Regions from separate parts of the Homo sapiens genome. Here region 2 is linked to region 1. Evidence: fine-mapped expression QTL. A gene starts in region 1. The other region holds a variant in brackets. All regions are shown on one strand. Distances are from middle to middle. Region 1 holds the start of CLNS1A (chloride nucleotide-sensitive channel 1A). Region 2 overlaps AQP11 (aquaporin 11).

Region 1 (2,906 bases):
ATTCACGCAGAGCTGCTGTGCAGGAGACTAGAGTTTGTTGTTGTTGTTTTGAGACGGAGTCTCTCTCTGTCGCCCAGGCTGGAGTGCCAAGGCGCGACCTCGGCTCACTGCAAGCTCCGCCTCTCGGGTTCACGCCATTCTCCCGCTTCAACCTCCCGAGTAGCTGGGACTACAGGCACCTGCCACCACGCCCGGCTAATTTTGTTTTTGTATTTTTAGTCGAGACGGGGTTTCACCGTGTTAGCCAGGCTGGTCTCGATCTCCTGTCCTCGTGATCTGCCCGCCTCGGCCTCCCAAAGTGCTGGGATTACAAGCATGAGCCACTGCACCCGGCCTAGAGTTTTATTTTTACTCAAATCAGTTTCCCAGAGCATTCAGGGATCAAAGTTTTTTTGTTTTTTGTTTTTTGTTGTTTTTTTTTTTTTTTTGAGACGGGGTCTCGCTCTGTCGCCCAGGCTGGAGTGCAGTGGCGCTATCTCGGCTCACTGCAAGCTCTGCCTCCCGGGTTCACGCCATTCTCCTGCCTCAGCCTCCCCAGTAGCTGGGACCACAGGCGCCTGCCACCACACCCGGCTAATTTTTTTGTATTTTTAGTAGAGACGGGGTTTCACCATGTTAGCCAGAATGGTCTTGATCTCCTGACCTCGTGATCCGCCCGCCTCGGCCTCCCAAAGTGCTGGGATTACAGGCGTGAGCCACCGCGCCCAGCCAGGGATCCAAGTTTTTAAGGATAATTTGGCAGGTTGGGGAAGGCCAGTGAGTCAAGAGTGCTGATTGGTTGGGTGGGAGATGAAGTCACAGGGAGTTGAAGCTGTCCTCTTGCGCTGAGTCAGTTCCTGGGTTGGTGGGGAGGGGGCACAAGATCACATAGCCAGTTTATCCATCTGGTGGTGCCAGCTGATCCATCAAGTGCAGGGTCTGCAACATATCTCAAGCACCGATCTTAGGTGCAGTTTAGGGAGGGTCAGAATCTTGTAGCTTGCAGCTGTAATTTCTAATCTAAACCATAATTTCTAATCTTGTGGCTGATTTGTTAGTCCTACAAAGGCAGTCCAGTCCCCAGGCAAGAAGGAAGTTTGTTTTGGGAAAAGGCTGTCATCATCTTTGTTTTAAACTTCAAACTGTAAACTAAGTTCCTCCCAAAGTTAGTTCAGCCTATATCCAGCAATGAACAAGGACAGTTTGGAGGTTAGAAACAACATGGATTTGGGTAGGTCAGATCGCTTTCAGTGTCTCAGTTATAATTTTGCAGTGGTGGTTTCACTGTGACAATCCTGAGGGACTTCCCACAGAACCCTCAGTTATTGAAGCCCAAAGCCTCAGAAATGGCGAGGAAGAAGGGGAAGGGTGTTGCGCGGTCAAACTCCACACGTTCTTAGCCGACCTCCGCCGCTTTTCCTAGAATGTCTCATCTCTATGGTCGACGGCGTTCAGATTCCGGGGCAGACTAAGTTGTTCTTCCGGGGTGACTGCCTCTTCCAGGGCGGGCGGTGTGGTGCACGCATTGCTGTGCTCCAACTCCCTCAGGGCCTGTGTTGCCGCACTCTGCTGCTATGAGCTTCCTCAAAAGTTTCCCGCCGCCTGGGCCAGCGGAGGGGCTCCTGCGGCAGCAGCCAGACACTGAGGCTGTGCTGAACGGGAAGGGCCTCGGCACTGGTACCCTTTACATCGCTGAGAGGTAGGGTTCCTGGTCCCCAGCGCTGGCCTCCTGCGCGCCGCCCTCCTCCTTGCTGGAGCAGGCGGTGCGAAGGAGCCGGGCAAGGGGCGGCCTGGAGGCCTGCTGGGAGCGGGGTCTCGTGCCCGACGCCTCAGGGATACCTGTAGCGGGTGGAAGGCTCGATTTTTCTAGTACTCCTCCGGAGTCTTCCATTCTCTGTTTTCTCCGGCCGGAATTTCCCCTTATGGATTGTGCTTTTTTTTTTTTTTTTTCTTTTTTTCCTCTTTCTCTTTCTCTGTCTCTTTCTCTCTTTCTTTCTTCTTCTTTTCTTTCTTTCTTTCTTTTATTTTCTTTTTTTTTTTTTTTTAACTCGCCTATTTACTGGAGGTCTGGCGCGTGCGTTGCCCTTAACGCACGGTCTGGTTTTAAGGGTCTGAAGTGTGCCTGTCTTTCCGGATGAACAGATGCAGGAGATGTTCCCCTCTCTGGGATACGTAGTTTCAGAGCCGACTGTGGAGGACTTTTAAAGTTTGGTTACACAATAAAGATTTTCTTCTGTAGGTATAGTAAGGAGAGGAACACCCTTAACTCGACACAGACAGGGGTCATATGCAGAGGGACCAGACTCCCGTTTTGGGGTCCTGGAAGGAATTGCCCTTTTATTTGGCCACGTGGAGCACTTTGGTATTTTGACAGTCAGATAGATCTACCGTAAATATTGTGGTTGTAGAACAGAGGTCCCTGTTTCCTTGACATGCAGTTTTCTTTATTTTGAAGCCTGTAATGACACATCGAATCTTTCCTGCCCTTCAGATATGTGTTGCTTCCCCTTTTGCTCCATCACTTGTCTACAGCCAGAGAAAATTCTCTACTTTTAAGAGCTCATGTGATTACTTTGGAACCACCTGTAAAATCCAGGATAATCTCCCTATGTTACTGTCGACTGGTAACCTTAATTACGTTTGTGAAGTCCCTTTTGCTGTGTAATATAACATATTCACCCGCATGACACCAGAAAGTGAAGGTCGTGGGGCCAAAATTCTGCCTACTACAGAATCCAGAGCACAAAAACTGTAAAGAACCTCTGCTTTAAAGGGAAATTTAGACATTGAACAAGGTTTAGGCTTCAGGCCAGAAACTGAGATAGGACATATGGATGGGAGGAAAAGCAAGATTGAGGTGAGAGGCAGATAATGAGTTTGGTCAGGACATGTGTGGAGTAGTTGTACATATGACCGTGTTGGGCCGG
Region 2 (2,906 bases), 26 kb after region 1:
TATAGCAGTCTAAGCCTCTAAACAGTACAAATGAGGACAGTGTAGCAGTTTATGTTCATAAAATTATGACCCTGCATCAGCCCAAATTATGATTGTAAATCCAAGTCTGACTAAGCAGATTTTTTTTTTTTTTTTTTTTTTTGAGACGGAATTTTCCTCTTGTTGCCCAGGCTGGAGTGCAGTGGCGTGATCTTGGCTCACCACAACCTCCGCCTCCCGGGTTCAAGCAATTCTCCTGCGTCAGCCTCCTGAGCAGCTGGGATTACAGGCATGCACCACCACATCCTGCTAATTTTGTATTTTTAGTAGAGACAGGGTTTCTCCATGTTGGTCAGACTGGTCTTGAACTCCTGACCTCAGGTGATCCACCCGCCTTGGCCTCTCAAAGTGCTGGGATTACAGGCGTGAGGCACCGTGCCTGGCCTAAGCAGAAAATTTTTATTAGAAAGCTATCTGGTAGCTCACTAAATGGACAGGAAAGTTGAAATAAGCCAGGCTCATAAAAAGATGAAATCTACATAAGATGTTATGATTCCTCCGCTGCTGTTAGACTGATTTCTTGATTGTCCCTGTGTCTGTGAGTCACCACACTTAAGATGCAAACTTCTGGTTGGCACTGTGTGTCTTCATTGCCAAGGGCAGAAGGAGTATCTGGGCCTTTCAGCTTCTACAGTGGAAGGACGCTGCCGCTGTGCAGATGCTCACAGTACCCCAGGTAAGAAGGATGCTTAGATGCTGGATTGCAAAAAATGTACAGCTGTCTACTACAACCCCAAATCTTTAAAAAAAAAAAAAAAAGCTGCTATTCTATTGCACAAGTGCAGGCATGGAATAAGCAAACAGTTGGATTTAATCAAGTTGAGGCTAAGCTCTGTGAGTATGAGATAGAGGAGCAAGGGAGTTAAGGGTGTATGCATGTGATGATGACTGGCCAAGTAAGCTGCTTAAGGAGAAGAGGGTACTTGAGAGGGGTGAGAGATGTGAAAAAGTGGTGTTATCAGTGGACAGAAGTTCCACATGGGGGTCAAAGGATCACTGGAGATGGGGTCCTAGAGAGACTGAGCTGAAAAGGGGTCAGTGGTTAGAGAGTAGGGTGTCTGAGTTCATAGAAGATTTCAGTTATTGGTAGTAAGTAAGTTCAAAGTTACCACCAAAATTGCAGCTGAGGCAAAGTAGAAGACAAAATTTTCAAAGGAGAGATCCAGTGAACTCCAAGGCCGTGCAGCTGGAAGGATCATCTTTGTATCTGTCACCAAGAAGTATAACTGTGGTGATGGTAGAGAGTGAGACAGGAACTAAGATCTGAAAGGAACAAAGGGAAATTGAGGGGACTGTATACTAGAAGACTGCAACAAGTACCCAGGTAACTGATGACATGTTTTTAATGGAAGAAGCAGAGGAGAATGGATGAGCAGCATCCCATGAGGACAAGCATCCATTGAGGACATTGAGGACAAGGAAATCTACTCTGCCTCCAGGCACAGTGGTATACTAGGTGTGGGAGAGAAAAGAGCCACTACTTGAGAGGGCTATAGAGGTAGCAGTGTCATCAGAACTCACAAACTCCAAAGTCTGACAGTGGAAGTTCAGAGGGCTAGGCATTTTCACAAATTAATACTCATTTTTCTTAACCCA[C/T]AGAAGTCCTCATGCTAGAGATGTAAAAAGGCATATTCCTATAAGAAAAACAGCCATGAAACAGTAAGTGAAACTTAGCTTCATGTTTGCAAGACGGGACCATTTTAAAGGGAACAACCATTATTTTGTGTTGTATGGCAGAATTCAGGCCTAGTATTGCAAGGTCTTTGGAGTTTTTCTAAGAGCAGCTAGAACTATGGATTTTACTTAATTTCGACTTTTTAAAAAAACTACTGTGAGGCCAAATAAAATAAGTCAGAGACTGCATTTAGCCATTTAGTCACATTTGTGAACTCTTTTTTTTTTTTTTTTTAAGATGGAGTTTCACTCTTGTTGCCCAGGCTGGAGTGCAGTGGCACGATCTCGGCTCACTGCAACCTCCGCCTCCCAGGTTCAAGCGATTCTCCTGCCTCAGCCTCCTGAGTAGCTGGGACTACAGGCGCTCACCAACATGCCTGACTAATTTTTCTACCTTTAGTGGAGACAGGGTTTCACCATCTTGGCCAGGCTAGTCTTGAATCGCTGACCTTGTGATCCACCCACCTCAGCCTCCCAAAGTGCTGGGATTACAGGCGTGAGCCACTGTGCCCGGCCGAACTCTGCTTTTTAAAATACAAAGCTGGCTGCCTTGTTGGGTAGACTTGGCAAAAGGCTGCACCTGTTCAGTCTGCAGGTATAAATAGAGTGACTGTCTACAAGCTGGTCACCAAGCAGCACTTAAATTACCTGGCAACTGCGACTACAGGTGCACGCCACCATGCCTGGCTAATTTTTATATTTTTAGTAGAGGTGAGGTTTCACCATCTTGGCCAGGATGGTCTCAATCTCTTGACCTCGTGATCCGCCTGTCTCGGCCTCCCAAAGTGTTGGGATTACAGGCGTGAGCTACCGTGCCCAGCCTTTACTTTCAATTCTAACTCTGATAATGGAATTTCCTTTGAAGGGATACATACTTAACCTTTCATGGCCTGAACTTTTAATAAAAATTAGACCGCATACAATAAAAGAAGCCTTCTAATATAGTAAAACTGGAAGGTTCTTTAAACCTCAAAAAATACTAGTTAATTTCTAAACAAGTTTTAACGTTATTATAAAGTATTTAATGTTTCTATGAACCCTTGATTTCCCTTTAGTCATAATCGTGACCGAGAAGAATTTTTGGATTGAAGTTGAAGACTAGAGATGGTATTTGGCTCTATGTGATCTAAGCCAGGGCAGCAAACCCATCTAGGCTTAGTTTCCTTATCTGTAAAATGGAGATTAAAAATACA

The links.
Region 2: its variant is fine-mapped to the expression of CLNS1A in whole blood (TOPMed, PIP 0.94).

Annotation. Positions count from the first base shown.
Region 1 is chr11:77,636,362-77,639,267 of GRCh38, reverse strand. CLNS1A (chloride nucleotide-sensitive channel 1A) reads left to right here and starts at 1,474. Exons shown (of 7, transcript NM_001293.3): 1 at 1,474-1,678. The coding sequence starts at 1,554. RefSeq lists enhancers at 1,333-1,572, 1,227-1,746.
Region 2 is chr11:77,610,107-77,613,012 of GRCh38, reverse strand. AQP11 (aquaporin 11) reads right to left here. Exons shown (of 3, transcript NM_173039.3): 3 at 2,657-2,906. Among named protein-coding and RNA genes, the nearest start is that of AQP11, 22 kb to the right of the region's middle. The variant C/T (reference allele first, on the strand shown) is at 1,636.